Regions from separate parts of the Homo sapiens genome. Here region 1 is linked to region 2. Evidence: fine-mapped expression QTL. A gene starts in region 2. The other region holds a variant in brackets. All regions are shown on one strand. Distances are from middle to middle. Region 1 overlaps LINC00467 (long intergenic non-protein coding RNA 467). Region 2 holds the start of LINC00467 (long intergenic non-protein coding RNA 467).

What was found. PIP is the estimated chance that this variant, and not a neighbour inherited with it, causes the effect. A credible set is the group of variants that fine-mapping cannot tell apart.
Region 1: its variant is the best candidate, but not a certain one, in a credible set for the expression of LINC00467 in lymphoblastoid cells (GEUVADIS, PIP 0.75).

What each region holds. Positions count from the first base shown.
Region 1 is chr1:211,422,434-211,430,776 of GRCh38, reverse strand. It overlaps LINC00467 (long intergenic non-protein coding RNA 467), which reads right to left. Exons shown (of 6, transcript NR_026761.2): 5 at 4,494-4,566. Among named protein-coding and RNA genes, the nearest start is that of LINC00467, 44 kb to the right of the region's middle. The variant G/AG (reference allele first, on the strand shown) is at 4,435.
Region 2 is chr1:211,378,345-211,386,687 of GRCh38, reverse strand. It overlaps LINC00467 (long intergenic non-protein coding RNA 467), which reads right to left and starts at 3,933. Exons shown (of 6, transcript NR_026761.2): 1 at 3,763-3,933. LOC124904504 (a long non-coding RNA gene) reads left to right here and starts at 3,944. Exons shown (of 2, transcript XR_007066868.1): 1 at 3,944-4,095; 2 at 4,290-8,343. It overlaps LOC107985259 (a long non-coding RNA gene), which reads left to right and starts at 2,404. Exons shown (of 2, transcript XR_001738447.1): 1 at 2,404-3,417; 2 at 3,734-3,862. RefSeq lists an enhancer at 3,751-3,820.

The DNA.
Region 1 (8,343 bases), 44 kb before region 2:
TATTCTAATTTGAACCTATTTAACTCTCATCTTAGAATTATGTTTCTATGCAGTGGTTCATGCCTGTAATCCCTGCACTTTGGGAGGCAGAGGGCAGGTGGATCAGGAGGTCAGGAGTTCAAGACCAGCCTGGCCAAGATGGTGAAACCCCGTCTCTACTAAAAATACAAAAATTAGCTGGGCATTGTGGCAGGTGCCTGTAATCCCAGCTACTTGGGAGGCTGAGGCAGGAGAATCGCTTGAACTCAGGCAGCAGAGGTCACAGTGAGCCACTATCGTGCCATTGCATTCCAGCCTGGGTGACAGAACAAGACTCCGTCTCAAAAAAAAGAATAATGTTTCTAAGATTACAAGAATTTTACCTTGTATCACTGGGGCCAGAAATTGTGCTAAATGGCTATTACTAGCTGTAAGGGAGGCTGGGAATTTGAAGATTCACTTTTTAGTCTTTGTAAGCTAAAAAGAAAAACAAGAGCTTTCAAGAGACCAAACCTATAATAACTGTCACTAAAAATGCATGTGTGGTAGTAATGGCAGGGGAATGGTGAGAGAGAATAATCAAGAATGATCCCCAGATCAGGCTTGGGTTGTAAATCTACTAATATGAAGAATTCTGGAGAAGAAGCAGGTCAATACTAAGCACTGAGAAATTAAAAGCTTTATTATTATTATTATTATTATTATTATTATTATTATTATTATTAGATGACATCCACTGATTCAGCCCTGACATTATCCACAATTGTTATATGCTGGAGATTTTCTTTCTTTCTTTTTTTTTTCTGAGATGGAGTCTTGCTCTGTCACCTAGGCTGCCCAGGATGGCAGTGGTGCCATCTAGACTCACTGCAACCTCCACCTCCCAGGTTCAAGCGATTCTCACGCCTCAGCCTCCCGAGTAGCTGGAATTACAAGCATGCACCACCATACCCAGTAATTTCTGTATTTTTAGTAGAGACAGGGTTTCACCATGTTAGCCAGGCTGGTCTTGAACTCCTGACCTCAAGTGATCCACCCACCTCAGCCTCCTAAAGTGATGGGATTACAGGCGTGTGCCACTGGGCCCAGCCTGTGCTGGAGATTTTAAAGGAAGAAAAGTAATTTATAATTATCCAAATCCTTGTAATAGTTGGTCAGTTGGGTGGCAAATCCCAGCCTATCAATTATATAGTAGAGTGCCCCATCCTAATGAAACAGTTTATGACAGAATGCTTGCATTAGACATTGCTTGCATTAGACACTGGATTTGTGGCCTCCAAGAAAATTTTCCAAGCAAATGACTCTATTTACCTCCAATTTACTACAAAACAAACATTTGCAATGTAGGAATTACTTAGAAATTTTAGTTCAAGTGTGTACTAAACACAAATGAAATGTTTTTATAGAGTATAGAAGAACTGTAAAAACACAATGCAATGTTTATTTTGAGATACGGTTGTGCCTCAGTCGACATGGAAGTTTGGTTCCAGGACCTCCACATATACCAAAATTCACGCATACTCAAGTCTCACAGTTAGCCTTGTGGAACCAGCTGACAAAAAGTTGGCCCTCAGTATATGCAGGTTTTGCATCCCACAAATACTGTATTGTCAATCCACATTTGGTTGAAATAAATTTACATGTAAGTGGACTCCTGAAGTTCAAACCATGTTGTTGAAGTGTTAACTATACTTAACTTTATAAATACCATCAGCAACAACCATATTACCTTTTTCCTAGGAAAAATATCTGATGGTATTTATAAAGTTAAGTATATTTAAATCCTTTATCTGTCAAATATTAATTTTAGAATCTGATAAGGTTTAATTATTTATTAACCAGATTATTCCTCTTCTACAATTTGACTAGTTGATTATGTGGCAAATAAGGACACCAATCACACCAAGGTGGGTTGATATTATAACACTATAGGGTACCTATGACTTACAAGAGTCCTCTACTGAGTATGAAAACTTGTATCCTGCCAAGTCTGCCTGAAGTCCATCAATCTTTATTATACTTATTTTAAAGGAATCATCCATTTTGCAAAACTTTTAATTTCCAAAATTTGTATGCTTTAAATTTGGGAACTTTGTGCACAGTATTAAAAAACCATTTAGGATGATCCTTTAATAAGATTTATCCCATTAAAACAATGCATTTCTATAAAACTATGTCTTCCAGACTTTCTATATCCAGTTACTAGGTCATACAGATTTTACCTTTGCAATATTTCTTCTATCTGTTCTTTTCAATGCCCCAATCATTGTCTTTAGTCTGATCTATAAATTGGCTGTATTAATATTTATCTTCCTCACTAGGCTACAATAGCTTCCTGTAGGTTTTTTCCTTCCAAATCATTCTGATATTGAATTATATTCCTAGAACAAAGGTTAGAAAATGTCATTTCTGTTTTAAGATGTTCAAATGTTCCCAATGCCTACAGAGTAAAATCCAAACTAGTTCCAAACTACTACTTTGGTCTAATTTCTTACTACATGCCACTTCTCATCTTATGTTCCAGTTTCAACTGCAAATATCCTGATCCAAAATGAACTTTTGTTCCTCTTTACCTTTGCTAATGCTTTTCCCTCAGCCTGGAATGCTCTTTACCCTTTTTTCTGCCTAGTAAAATTTACTCATCCTTTAAGATTTGATTCAAATACCGCCATCTCCTTTGGGGAGGACTACATGATCTACCAATCTGAAACAGATTAATAATTGCTCTGGGCACCCATGGAATTGTACCCTTAGGGAAGTATTTATTTTCTATTAGCTTCTGCCTTCTTGGAGTCCATAGAAAAAAAAGCGTGAATAAATATAAAATAAGAAGCATAGTCACAAATACAGACATGAAGTGTTCAAGTTCAGATACCATATTAAGCAAGTTAAAGTAATTTTTTTTCTTTTTTGAGATGGAGTTTTGCTGTTGGTGCCCAGGCTGGAGTGCAATGGCACGATCTCGGCTCACTGCAACCTCCACCTCCTGGGTTCAAGCCATTCTCCTGCCTCAACCTCCCGAACAGCTGGGATTACAGGTGTCTGCCACCACGTTAGGATTACAGGTGTAAGCCAGCACACCAAGTCAAGTTAAAGCAATTTCTAAATGTATTTGTAAAGCACCTGATTTGTTAGGGCAGATAGTATCCTAAATATTCCATACAAGATGAAAACCAACTTTGTCATTTTGATCATATTTGAGAGTCACAGGACATTTTTACTTAAAAAAAATTTTTTTTTTGGCAAGTCGCAGTTGCTCATGCCTGTAATCCCAGCATTTTGGGAGGCCAAGGCAGGTGGATCACCTGAGGTCAGGAGTTTGAGATCAGCCTGACCAATGTGGTGAAACCCCATCTCTACTAAAAATGCAAAAATTAGCCAGGCATGGTGGCATGCACTTGTAGTCCCAGCTACTCGGGAGCCTGAGACAGGAGAATCACTTGAACCTGGGAGGCAGAGGTTGCAGTGAGCAGAGATCATGCCACTGCACTCCAGCCTATGCAACAGAGCAAGACTCCGTCTCAAAAAAAAAAAAATTTTTTTTGTTGTGAGACAGGGTCTCACTCTGAGTGCAGTGGTGTGATCACAGTTCACTGTAACTTCGAACTCCTGGGCCCAAACTATCCTCTCACTCCAGTCTCCTGAGTAGCTAGAACTATAGATGCATACCATCACACCTGGCTAATTTAAAAATTTTTTTATAGAGATGGAGTCTCAGTATGCTGTCCAGGCTGATCTGAACTCCTTGCCTCAAGCAGTGCTCCCGGCTTGGCCTCTCAAAGTGGTGGGATTACAGGCCACCATGCCTGGCCCATTTGTTATTTTCAATAAATGTTTTTTCTAAGGATATTGTAATTCTGTATTTTAATTATATCATGTGACTTCAAGAACACTATATGAAACTATGCTATGTTAATACATATTTTCAAAAATAAACTTTGAAAGAGACACCTGTTCACTGAATGTCATCTCAGGGTACAGAGATAAAATCCAATTGGCAATTTTTAATGCTTTGAAATATGTGGGATTGCTACTATTCTTGATATATTTAAGAGATGACAATATATATCTAAATTTTAAAGTATGCAGTTTATATAACCAACAAGAAAAATTATACGCATAATATTTTCCTTAACATGTCGTACACTGTGATTTGTAAACCAGGCTGGGTGTGATGGCTCATGCCTCTAATCCCAGCACTTTGGGAGGCCGAGGCAGGAGGATTTCTTGAGCCCAGTTCGAGACCAGCCTGAGCAACACGGCAAACCCCCACGTCTACAAAAAATAGCCAGATGTGATGGCACACACCTGTAGTCCCAGCTAATCAGGAGGCTGAGGTGGGAGAATTGCCTGAGCCCAGGGAGGTCGAGGCTGCAGTGAGCTGTGATCGTGTCACTGTACTTTAGCCTGGGCGACAGAGTGAGACCCTATCTCAAAAAAAAAAAAAAAAAAAAA[G/AG]TAAACCGACTACCAAAAGTACTGCAAAATAAATTTCTTAAACATGAAACACATGATACCTTGGAAAGGTGACATATGTGGTTGTTTCCTCCTTTTTTTCCTTCTCTTTTTCTTGGTGTTTCATATTTTGTCCTTAAAACAAAAGAAAACATATTAATGATTGCTTCAATAAAAAAAGACACAGACCTTATTTTTTAGTAGTGATTATATTCATGGCCCAAAATTTAAATAGCAAAACATCTCCTTTCCACCTGTCAACCAGCCATCTAAATTTTCCCTTAAGACACTTACGGTTGTTATAACAAAATGCCACAGGTGGGTGGCTTAAACAACAGACATTTCTCACAGTTCTAGAAATTTGGAAGCCCAAGATTAGGTTGTCATCAGATTCAATGTCTGGTTAGGGCCCACTTCCTGGTCTCCAGACTACCTCTTATCATGGTATTCCCACAGAGTTGAGAGAGGAAGCTCTAATATCTCGTCGTCTTCTTAATTTTTTTTTTTCTTGAGACGGAGTCTCACTCTTTCACCCAAGCTGGAGTGCAGTAGTACAATCTCGGCTCACCGCAACCTCCATCTCCTGGGTTCAATCAATTTTCCTGCCTCAGCCTCCCAAGTAGCTGGGATTACAGGTGTGCACTACCACGCTCCGTCAATTTTTGTATTTTTAGTAGGGTCGGGGTTTTACTATGTTGGCCAGGCTGGTCTCGAACTCCTGACCTCAAGTGATCTGCCTGCCTCAGCCTGCCAAAGTGCTGGAATTACAAGGGTGAGCCACCACGCCTGGCCTCTTCTTCTTGTTATAAGAGCACTAATCCCATCATGGGGTATCTAATCTCATGATCTCATCTAAATCTAATTACCTCCCAAAGTCCCCACCATCTAATATATCATTGGGGGATTAGAATTTCAGCATATGAATTTTGGAGAAACACATTTAGACCATAATATTTCCCAAAGATAACAAGAAATCTTACAATTTTTTTGCATATCTTTCCAAAGATACTTGTATGCATTTATAGGCAACTAAATATATATGTTCTTCCCTTCAACACCACTACTTCCATAAATGGTAACATATTTTTACACACCATCCTGTGTGGCTATAACTTGAAGGCCATTCCTAATCAGTAAGCAAAGGATTACTTAGTATTTTTTGATTGCAATATATTCCACTGTATAGAGATTCCAGAATTTAATCAGCCTACTGCAGATGGACATTTATGTTGTTTCCAATCTTTTACATACAATATTGCTACAAATAACCTGTAAAGGTGGTTTTAAAGGTGTGTGAATAAATTACTAGAAGTGTAATTGAGGACTCTGGATTATATATATTCCTAATTTTAATAGATATTGTCATACTGCCCTCCACTGACGCTGAATCAATGTTCTTTCCCATCAGCAGAAAGGACCTACACTTCCCCGAACCTTGTTCCCCATGTTATCACATGATGTGATAACAAACTTTTGAATCTTTTAACTAATTAGATAGGTGAAAAATGACATGTTTAATTAAAATCTTCATTTTTGTTACCACGAGTAAGTTTGGGCATCTTTAAATAAATTTAAGAGGCATTTATATCTTCCTTTTGTGAGCTGTCTGGTCATATCTTCTGCACATTTGTCTACTGGGTTGTAAGACCTTTTAAAATTGATTTTTTCCCCATCCTAAATCACATTTTTAGACTATCTGGTGTGGCCAGCCCTATCGTAAATCACATCACCCAAGGCCTCCAGGCAAACAAAGATACAAGTTGAGTATTCTTTATCCAAAATTCCTGGGACCAGAAGTATTTCTAATCTTAAATATTTTGTGATTTTGGAATATTCACATATACAGAATGAGATATCTTAAGGATAGGACCCAAGTTCTAAAAACAAAATTCAAGGCTGGTCGCAGTGGCTCATGCCTGTAATCCCAGCTACTCAGGATGCTGAGGCAGGAGGATCCCTTGAGGCCAGGAGTTTGAGACCAGCCTGTGCAACATAGAGAGATCATGTCTCTAGAAAAAAAAAATTAAAAATTAGCCAGGTGCAGTAGCATGCACCTGTGGTTCCAGCTACTCAGGAAGCTGAGGTGGGAGGATCAACTGAGCCCAGTAGTTCAAGGCTGCAGTGAACTAGGATTGCATCACTACACTTCAGCCTGGGTGACAGAGACAGATCCTGTCTCAAAACAAATAAATTAATTAATAAACTTAGTTTATATTTCACATATACCTTAAACACATAGCCAGAAGATAATTTTATACAATAATTTTTTTTTTTTTTTTGAGACAGAGTCTCGCTCTACTACCCAGGCTGGAGTGCAGTGGTGGGATCTCGGCTCGCTGCAACCTCCACCACCTAGGTTGAAGCAATTCTTGTGGCCTTAGCCTCCCAAGTAGCTGGGATTATAGGCACGCTCCACCACGCCCAGCTAATTTTTGTATTTTTAGCAGAGACAAGATTTCACCATGTTGGCCACGCTGGTCTCAAACTCCTGTGATCCACCCACCTTGGCCTCCCAAAGTGCTGGGATTACAGGTGTCAGCCACCACACCCAGCCAATAATTTTTTGAGACAGAGTCTTGCTCTGTCACCCACACTGGAGTGCAGTGGCACGATCTTGGCTCACTGCAACCTCTGCCTCCCGGATTCAAGAGATTCTTGTGCCTCAGCCTCCAGAGTAGCTGGGATTATAGGCGCGTACTACCATGCCTGGCTAATTTTTGTATTTTTGGTAGAGATGAGGTTTCACCATGTTGGCCAGGCTGGTCTAGAACTCCTGACCTCAAAAGGTCCACCTGCCTCGGCTTCCCAAAGTGCTGGGATTACAGGCATAATCCATCGTGCCTGACCTATGCAATAATTTTTAATAATTTTGTGCATAAAATAAAATTTGCATGCATCATACCACCAGAAAACAAAGGTGTCACTACCTCAACCACTACCCATGTGGGTAATCTGTGGTTGATGGGCATCACCATCATTCCTGACTCTGAATTTATTTATTTGCTACTGATAAGGAATCCTTTTCCTATACTTATTCACACAAAAGTACGTAACAGCAAAAAATATGACATACCAGTAATACAGTGAAAAAATAATGCATTCAGGGTAACTAAGCAGCACAGTAGCACCACCAGAATACCTGTATCAGCTGTGAAACAACAGCAACAACAAACAATGGCAGGCTTTCAGTCCCCACCTATCATGCTGTGTTTTGATTAAAAGGTTACTATACACCATTTTTCTAAGTTATCAGAAGCAGGTGAGAGACCAAGAAGTGGGTCTTCTAAGGATAAGAAGGCTTTCTGCTGGATGGCTTTTTAAAATGTTTCCTCCAGAGTCATCTGCCTCATTAACAATGCTTTTGATTTAGAACTCTCTCTTAGACATTATAAACTGTGATGATTTCTTGTTCTTTTATAAATGTACACTGTTCTATTCCTTCAATAAGCCCAGCACACATTTTCACCATTGCTATCGTTTGGATATTTGACTCTCCAAACCTCATGTTGAAATCTGATCCCCAATGTTGGAAGTGGGGCCTAATGGGGTGTTTGGATCATGGGGGCAGATCCTTCATGAATGTCTTGGTGCCATTCTCTCAGTAATGAGTGAGTTCTAACTCTATTAGTTCCCACAACAGTTCACCTAGAACTGGTTGTTGAAAGAGCCTGGTACCTCTTCCTCTCTCTCTTGCCTTCTCTCTCACCATGAGATCTGCAGTTGCAGGCGCCCCTTCACCTTCTGCCATGAGTGGAAGCAGCCTCAGTCTCTTGCCAGAAGCAGATACTGGCGCCATTCTTGTGCAGCCTGCAGAACCATAAACCAAATAAACCTCTTTTCTTTTTTTTTTAGAGACAGGGTCTCACTCTGTTGCCCAGGCTGAGTGCAGTGGCACAATCATAGCTCACTACA
Region 2 (8,343 bases):
AACAATAGCTATGGGTTTTGTCGATGACTTTTATTAGGTTCTCTTCTATTACTTGTTTGCTGAGTTTTAAGAATAATGAATGAATGCTGAATCTTCTTAAGTGTTTTTCTGCATCTATTAATAGCATCATGTAGTTTTTCTTATTTAGTCTGTTAATATGGAGGATTATATGATGTTCAAATATTGAATTCCTGGGATGAGACTTCGTCACAATGTACTATTTTTCTAATATACTGCTGAATTCAATTTGCTATTATTTTTTGAGGAAGTTGTATCTTTGTTCATGAGGGATTTTAACTTTTAGATTTGTTTTTTGTATTGTCTTTATCTGGTTTTGGTATCCAGAAAATGCTGCCTTCATAAAATGAGTTAAGTGTTTCTTCCTTTTCTACGATCCAAAGAGCTTGTAAGAGAACTGTTATTTTTTCATCCTTGAATGTTTGGTGAAATTTGCCAGTGAAATTATCTCGGCCTGGAGCTTTCTTTTTTTTTAAAGTTATTATTCTTTTTTTTTCTTCCTGGCAAGAAGACTCTTGCCAGGGTTTGTTTTTTGGTTGTCGTTTTGTTTGTTCGTTTTTCTCACAAATTCTATTTCTTTAATACTTATAGGACTATTTCATTTACCTATTTTGTCCTGGGTGAGTTTTGGTAATTTTGATAGTGGCCCATTTCTCTCACATTATCAAATTTATAAGTACAGAGGTGTTCGTGTATTACCTCATCCTTTTTAATGTCTGTTGGGTTGGGAGTGCTCTTAGAGCACGTATGTTTGTTTCTTTTTTAAATTTGTACTTAAATTTTTATTTGCTGATCTTCTCTGTATCATTCCAATTTTAGTATATGTGCTACTGAAGCAAGCACTAGCACAGATGTTATAGGAATGACTTCAATAAAATACTGAAGACAAGGTAGACCTGCAGCATAACTGATCCTCGAACCTTGTTATCATTGATTTCCTCTTTCAATTCCATATCCAGTCAGATATTTGATTTGTCCTTGTCAATACTTCTTCTGATTTCTCTTCATTCCCAATACTGCTTGGCACAGTCTCCTACCTAAATGATTCCCCTGCCACTTAACTAGTCTCGTTGCTTTTTCCCACTGTCATGCATTTTTCATACTGCTACCAGATTTATCTTTTTAGACCTCAAATGGTTCAACACTGCCCACAAGATAAAGGCCTTCCACATCTGGCTTAGTTCTGGTGTTCTGAATAATACTTTTTCCCTAAATCAAGGGTTTTTAACATTTAAATTTGAGAAGGAGTAGTCAACAAATCTCCTAAAATTAAGCATAAAATGTTGTATGGATGTGAATTTTATTTCCAGAGCAAGATCTACAGCTTTTTTAAAAAATTTATTTTTAGGCTGGGTCTCATGGCTCACACCTATAATCCTAGCACTTGGGAAGGCCGGGGTGGGTTGATTGCTTAGGCCAGGAGTTTGAGACCACCCAGGCCAACGTAGCAAAACCCATATCTACTAAAGTTACAAAAATTAGTCAGGTGTGATGGTGCACACCTATAGTCCCAGCTACTCGGGAGGCTGAAGCATGAGAATCACTTGAACCCAGGAGGCAGATGTTGCAGTGAGCCAAGATTGCACCAGCCTGGGTGACAAAGCAAGACTGTCTCAGAAAAACATAATTTTTATATATTTAGAGGGTACGAGTGCAGAATTCTTAGATGTACATATTGCACAGTGGTGAAGCCTGGGCTTTTAGTGTACCCATTACCAAAATTGTGAGCATTGTTCCCAGTATGTAACTTTTCAACCCTCACCCCCCTCCCATCCTCCCACCTTTTGTAGTCTGCAGTGTCTATATGTACGTGTACCCATCACTTCTCAGCTCCTGCTTTAAGTGAGAACATGTGATATTTGGCTTTCTGAGTTATTTCGGTTAGGATAATGGCTTCCAGTTCTATCCATGTTGCTGAAAAAACATGACTTTTTAATGGCTAAATAGTATTCCATGGCATACACACACACACACACACACACACACACACCACCACATTTTCTTTACCCAATCCTCTGTTGATGGAGGGTCTACAGATTTTATCAGATATTCAAAATGAGAAAATTGTACTCTGAATCCTTCAACCTTGTCTCTGTATCGAGAACACACTACAGGTGGGGTGCAGTGGCTCATACCTGTAATCCCAGCACTTTGGGAGGCCAAGGTGGGAGGACTGCTTGAAGCCAGGAGTTCAAGACCAGCCTGGGCAACATAGTGAGACCCTGTCTCTACAAAAAATACAAAAATTAGCCGGGCATGGTGGTGCACACCTGTAGTCCCAGATACTCAGGAGGCTGAGGTGGAGGCTGCAGTGAGCTCTGATCACGCCACTGCACTCCAGCCTGGGCGACAGAGTGAGACCCTGTCTCAAAAACAAACAAACAAAAAAACAAAAAAAAACACTAAAAACAAACTACAGCCTCCACCTCCCTCAATAGTGAGTACAGAGTTATCACTCCTCTCTCTGAAATTAGATTTATAATATTTTAGTGACCTAGCCTAACCTTAACATTTTACAGATGAGTAAACACATCTAGCACTTTTACCTGATTTGTCCAAAGTTGCTCTTATACAATTTGTATTCTGTGCAACTGAGATGGGATTTATCTGCTATTTTATGTGGCCTTTTTATGAAGGCCTTTTCATGTTTCTCCTTCAGGTCGGAACTAAACCTCAGAGTTCTTCAAAACCCCAATTACCTTTATTGTCTTACATAAGCTAGCTGCCCAAATGTTTGCTGAGAATAGTGATAACCATTGTCATATTGAGGTAGAGGAAGGGGGCTGGTTGGTGGGTACTGGTTTAGGGGTACTTTTTTAAGGAAGCATGAGCACATTTTGGATATGCAAAATATTATTAAGTTTAGAGCTTAGATTTGGAAAAACAACACTTAAGCGTCTGTGTAAGGAGAGCTCTGAGAAAAGGGTTTTCAGACAGAACCCAAATTTCTCAAGAAGAACCCTCTAAACAGCATTAAGGAAAAAAATTCCTCTGTAGAAGCAACTAAGAAAAAAAGGAATACTCAGTATTTGGGAAAGAGAAAGGAATGAATGATAACAACACCAGATTGAGTAAGCTACACAATAAATCCAAATTTCAGCCCTACCACATCCAACCTATGTTGCCTTGAGCAAATTATTAAACTTTTCTGTGCCTCAATTTTCTCATGTCTGCCTACTTAAGGACTGCGTGGGAAGATTAAATAAAATGCATGTAAAGCACTTAGGTCAGTACCTTACTCTTAAGGCACTCTTAAGGGTTTGAGAAGGAAGGGAGGGACGTTAAGTGGAATGGTCCTTGGTACATTTTTGTTCCGCGGCAGTAGGATTCTGAAACAGAGGACATAATTACAAAGAAAGTTGGAGTAAGAAGTGGTGGTGCGGGCATCACATTTTCCTGGTGAGTATCTGAGGGCCCATCACAACTGTAGGAAGCGGAAGGGCTAATAAGTGTCAGGCCAAGAGCACACCCTCCAGGGTGCATCTGAGAAGTCGGCGGCCGTCGAGTATTAGCACTTAAATACTACGAGAGCTTTCATGACAAAGGACACATCTTTTGGGGAAACTCAGAGCTTGGGAGCGGCCTCATTAGCGGGGGACCGGGCAGAGGGGGGCTACCAACAGTCCCCTCGGAGTGACCGAAGGGAGATTGAGGAAAGAGTGAGGTGGGAAGAAAATGGCGGCGCGGCTTCTACCGGTTTGCCTTCACACTCTAGCCACAGCCCCGGCTGGAACGGTCACTTACTGGAAACTGCAGAGAAACAACCTGTTTGGTCCGACTTGACAACCTCAACCGGACCGAAGGTGCTGAACAACCAGTGCGGCGAGCGCCGCGAAACCCAACGCCCGACCGCGTAGGGAACGTCACAGCGCGCGCACGCGCAACAGTCGACTAGAAATGTCCGGCCTACGCCACAGAGCGGGGCGGGAGCGGAAGCGACTCTTCCGGTCGCGGGAGCCTTAGGCAAGAGCTGCTGGACTGGAGGGAGGGAGGGGAGGGGAGGGGAGGGGCGCGGGGACTCAAGCCACGGTTTTTGTGTCCGCGGCTGCACCCCTCTCGAAGCGTTTTCACGCACATGTGAGAAACCTCACACCCTGGGGCCGATTTCTTTAGTAGATTGGCGCCCAAATGGCAAAGATTTCCAGGGATTTGTTTGGGATTCCATATTTTTGTAGATTTGCCGAGATTGGATACTAGTACAATATTGAGAATTCCCGTCCAGCAATGTGGCTATTTTTTTAAATTAATTCAGTTCTCCCTTTGTTTTTCAGGTAAAGCGTTGCAGTTCGCTTGGTGTTGTGCGCATTTAACATTTTTTCATAGCTATTTTTGTTATTGTAGTTTGTTTTTACTAATAGACTATTAATCCATTAGTATCCTTGTATAAGAATGGCTTTTGATTGTTGATCTATCTGGACACTTCACTAAACGTTCGTATTCTAAAAATTTGACAGGCAGTCCTCTTTGATTTGTAGGTAAGAATTTATCTGTAAAGAACAATTTTGGCTTTTCCCAAGAATCCAGTGCAACACTGAATAGTAGCCGGAGGTACTTATTTCTTACCAGGAGTTATTTTGGATTGCATCTTAGGTTTCATTCAAGATATCTTCTGCAGGTTTATGGTGTGTGTGTGTGTGGGTGTATAGGCAAATTATGTTCTTTTCGTAGTTTACCATATCGGTTTTTTTTTTAATCAGCAAATGACTAAGTTTTACCAAGTATTTTCAGTATCAGTCTTTGAGATGATTGTATGGCCTTTTTTCCATTACTCTACAATAAAATAACTACAATAATAGATTTTCTAATGGTGAGCCAAACTTAGAATCCTGGTATCTTATTTTTTCAATATATTGCTGGATGCAATTTGCTGTGTAGTTAATTTTGGATTTTCATGTATGCACCTAAGTTAGATTGGCTTATGGTTTTCTTTTGCTGTCCTTGTCTAGTTTTGGTATCAGGTTGTGCTAGGAGTCAGACAGGTTAACTTATTTTTGTATGACCTGGAATAGACATAGCATGTGTGAATGATACATTTCTTAGGTTTTGAAGAACTCATCTTTAAAGCCTTCTGGGTGTGGTGCCATCTTAATGGATAGTTTTGTTTTTTATATAGCGTCCATCGTTATTGATACCTAGAATTTTTTCTTTTGCTTCTTGAGAAAATTAGTTTTTTCTAGAAAAGTATTGGCCGGGTGCGGTGACTCACGCCTGTGATCCCAGCACATTGGGAGGCCGAGGAGGGCGGATCACGAGGTCAGGAGATCGAGACCATCCTGGCTAACACGGTGAAACTCCGTCTCTACTAAAAATACGACAATGAAAAATTAGCCGGGCATGGTGGCGGGCGCCTGTAGTCCCAGCTACTCAGGAGGCTGAAGCAGGAGAATGGCTTGAACCCGGGAGGCGGAGCTTGCAGTGAGCTGAGATTTTGCTACTGCACTCCAGCCTGGGGGACAGAGCGAGACTCCATCTTTAAAAAAAAAGTATTTCAGCTATATTTTCTAACATTTAAAAAAATCTCATATTGTTCTCAACCATTCTTATATATTCTTATATATATATTCTTATATATTGTATTGGAGTCTTTTTCTTGATCATATTTATCAAACCAGCTTTTGGTTTTATAGATAAAATCTGTCTTAAAAGTAATTTCTCTTTCATTAATGTATGCCTTCATTAATTTCTTCTTATCTCTTTGGGTTTATTTTGTTCTTTTTATAGAATCTTGGAAGCTTAACTTTCCTTTAAAATGTTTAATATGAAATATTACCAGAATGTACAGTTACAGAAAATAATATAATGAACACTTGTATACCAACCATCTAGCTTTATCCCATTTTAACATTTTCTCTTATTTGCTTCAGATTTTAACATTCAGTTAGAGCTCCTTGTGAAACTGCCTGCAATCTCATTCTCCCTCTCTTCCTCTCTGAAATTAACTACTTCATTGAATTTGGTATCTGTCATTCCCATGAAAGCTTTTATGTATGCTCCAAATACATGTAGCGATGTTAAGTAGCATAAAGTACTGTTTTATGCTTTTTAAACCTAATATAAATGATATGCATGTCACTTACTTTTGCCACCTATAATTATGTATGTAAAATTTATCCAGGATGATTCCTGTAGTTCTAGTTTTATTTTAACTGCTGAATAGTATTCCATTGTATAATTGTACCACCATTTATCCATTCTCCAGTTGCTAGCAATTTCATGATTCCTGATTTCTGTCATTATAACATGAGTTAGTTCTTGCACACAGCTTCTTAGACATATGGTAAGAATTTCCTTAGGATAATGTCTAGAAATGGAATTGCAAGGTGGAAGGGTTTGCACAGTTCAACTTTGATATTGCCAAATTGTTCTCCAGTGGTTGTACTAACTTACCCTCCATCAGCAATGTAGGAGAGCTGCTGTTGCTCCATTCCATGCCAACACAGGTTATTTTTTTGCCCCAGTTTTTTTGTTTTGTTGTTTGGTTTTTTTTTTGCTGTTACCAACTGCTGACAGTAAATTTTCTTGTACATGTTTCCTGGTACACGTGTGCAAGAGTTTCTCTGACTATAAAGCTAATGCAGTTATTAACTCTATTTTGTTTTCGGTATGTTTTTTAAAAGCATGTACATGTCCCCCTCATTTGAGATTTCTCCCTGTTAATACTAACACTTAACTTATTCATAGATATATCTCACTCATTTTTTTCTATGTATCATGCTTCCTGTTCTCTTTACTGCCTTTGGTTTGACAGTCTTTTTTTCCAGTTTTTTTCCCGCTTTAGTGGTTTGAAAGTTATATTTGATTTTTATTCTATGAATAGTAGTTACTCTTCTAACTCATTTAAAGGTGTATCTTTATATATATGTGTGTGTGTGTGTTTAGAATTCATCAGTATCCATATGAGGCAGTCTGTGTAGTGGTTAAGAGTGGAGCCTGTGAGGCCAGACTGCCTGGATTCAGATCCTAGCACTACCACTTATTAGCTGAGTAACCTAGAGCTTATTACATAAACTCTCTGTGCCTCAGTTGTTTCATCTGTAAAGTGGGGATAATACAGCATATACCTCATGAGGTTGTTCTAAGATTAATATGTTAATATATGTAACATTCTTAGGACAGTGCCTAATGCTTGGATCTCTTTACCAGATTTTTCATCTATGGAATGGGCAGAAGACTTGCCTATCAGAGTTGTTACAAAAATTCAGTGCATTAGTGTATTCATTCATTTTAATACACTGAGCACCTGCTGTGCACTTTTGAATTAGACATGGTTCTCGGCTTCAGTGGTCTCATAAGGGAACAGACATGAAATGCAATTTCAATACGATTTAACCTTAATACTCTTCCCATGTTCTCTCTTGTCCCCCTTCTAATCTGTGCTCCACATTAAGAGGCAAAACATTAATCAGATCATGCATCCTCTGCCCATCATATGTTAACTTTCATTATACTTTACATAAACCATAAACTTCTCACCATGGCCTGAGCCCTCAGGTTCTAAACCCTGTGCCTCCCTCTCTAACCTCATCAACTATCATTCTCCTGATTTCTACCAAATTCCCACCACACTATCCTCTTCTCAGTTCCTTGAGCCAACACTCTTCAGTGCCCTCTGCTCAGATTACTGATCCACCCTGACAGCTCTTCCCACGACTGACTCATCTTTCAGATCTCAGCTTGATTAGGTCAGGCAGTTAGTTACAAGCAACGGAATCCACTCTGGTTGAGAAAGAAAAGGACTTTTAAAAAATCATGTAGCTCACAGAATCTCTAGGAGAGCCAGAGGCCAAATATGGAAACAACGGTACCCAAACACACTAGACGATCTAGTGAGAATCCATTGCTGCTGCCACCATTGACACCAAAACTGCAACTTCCACAAACACTGGCGGTCCCCACTGGTAGCCAGAGTTAGGCATGTTTCCTTCTTCATCTTGCTCACTTTTTTTTTTTTTTTTTTTTGGAGATGGAGTCTCACTCTGTCACCCAGGCTGGAGTGCAGTGGCATGATCTCAGCTCACTGCAACCTCTGCCTCCCAGGTTCAAGCAATTCTCCTGCCTCAGCCTCCCGAGTAGCTGGGACTACAGGTGCCCGCCACCACGCCCGGCTAATTTTTGTATTTTTAGTAGAGACGAGGTTTCACCTGTTGGCCAGGCTGGTCTCGAACTCCTGACCTTGTGATCCACCCTCCTCAGCCTCCCAAAGTGCTGGGATTACAGGCGCGAGCCACTGTGCCCAGCCTGTCTTGCTCACTTTCAAGTTGAAATTTTGCATTGGCTATGCCTGCTTGGTGGGGCCTAGGTCACATTGCTGTGCTACAAAGGGGG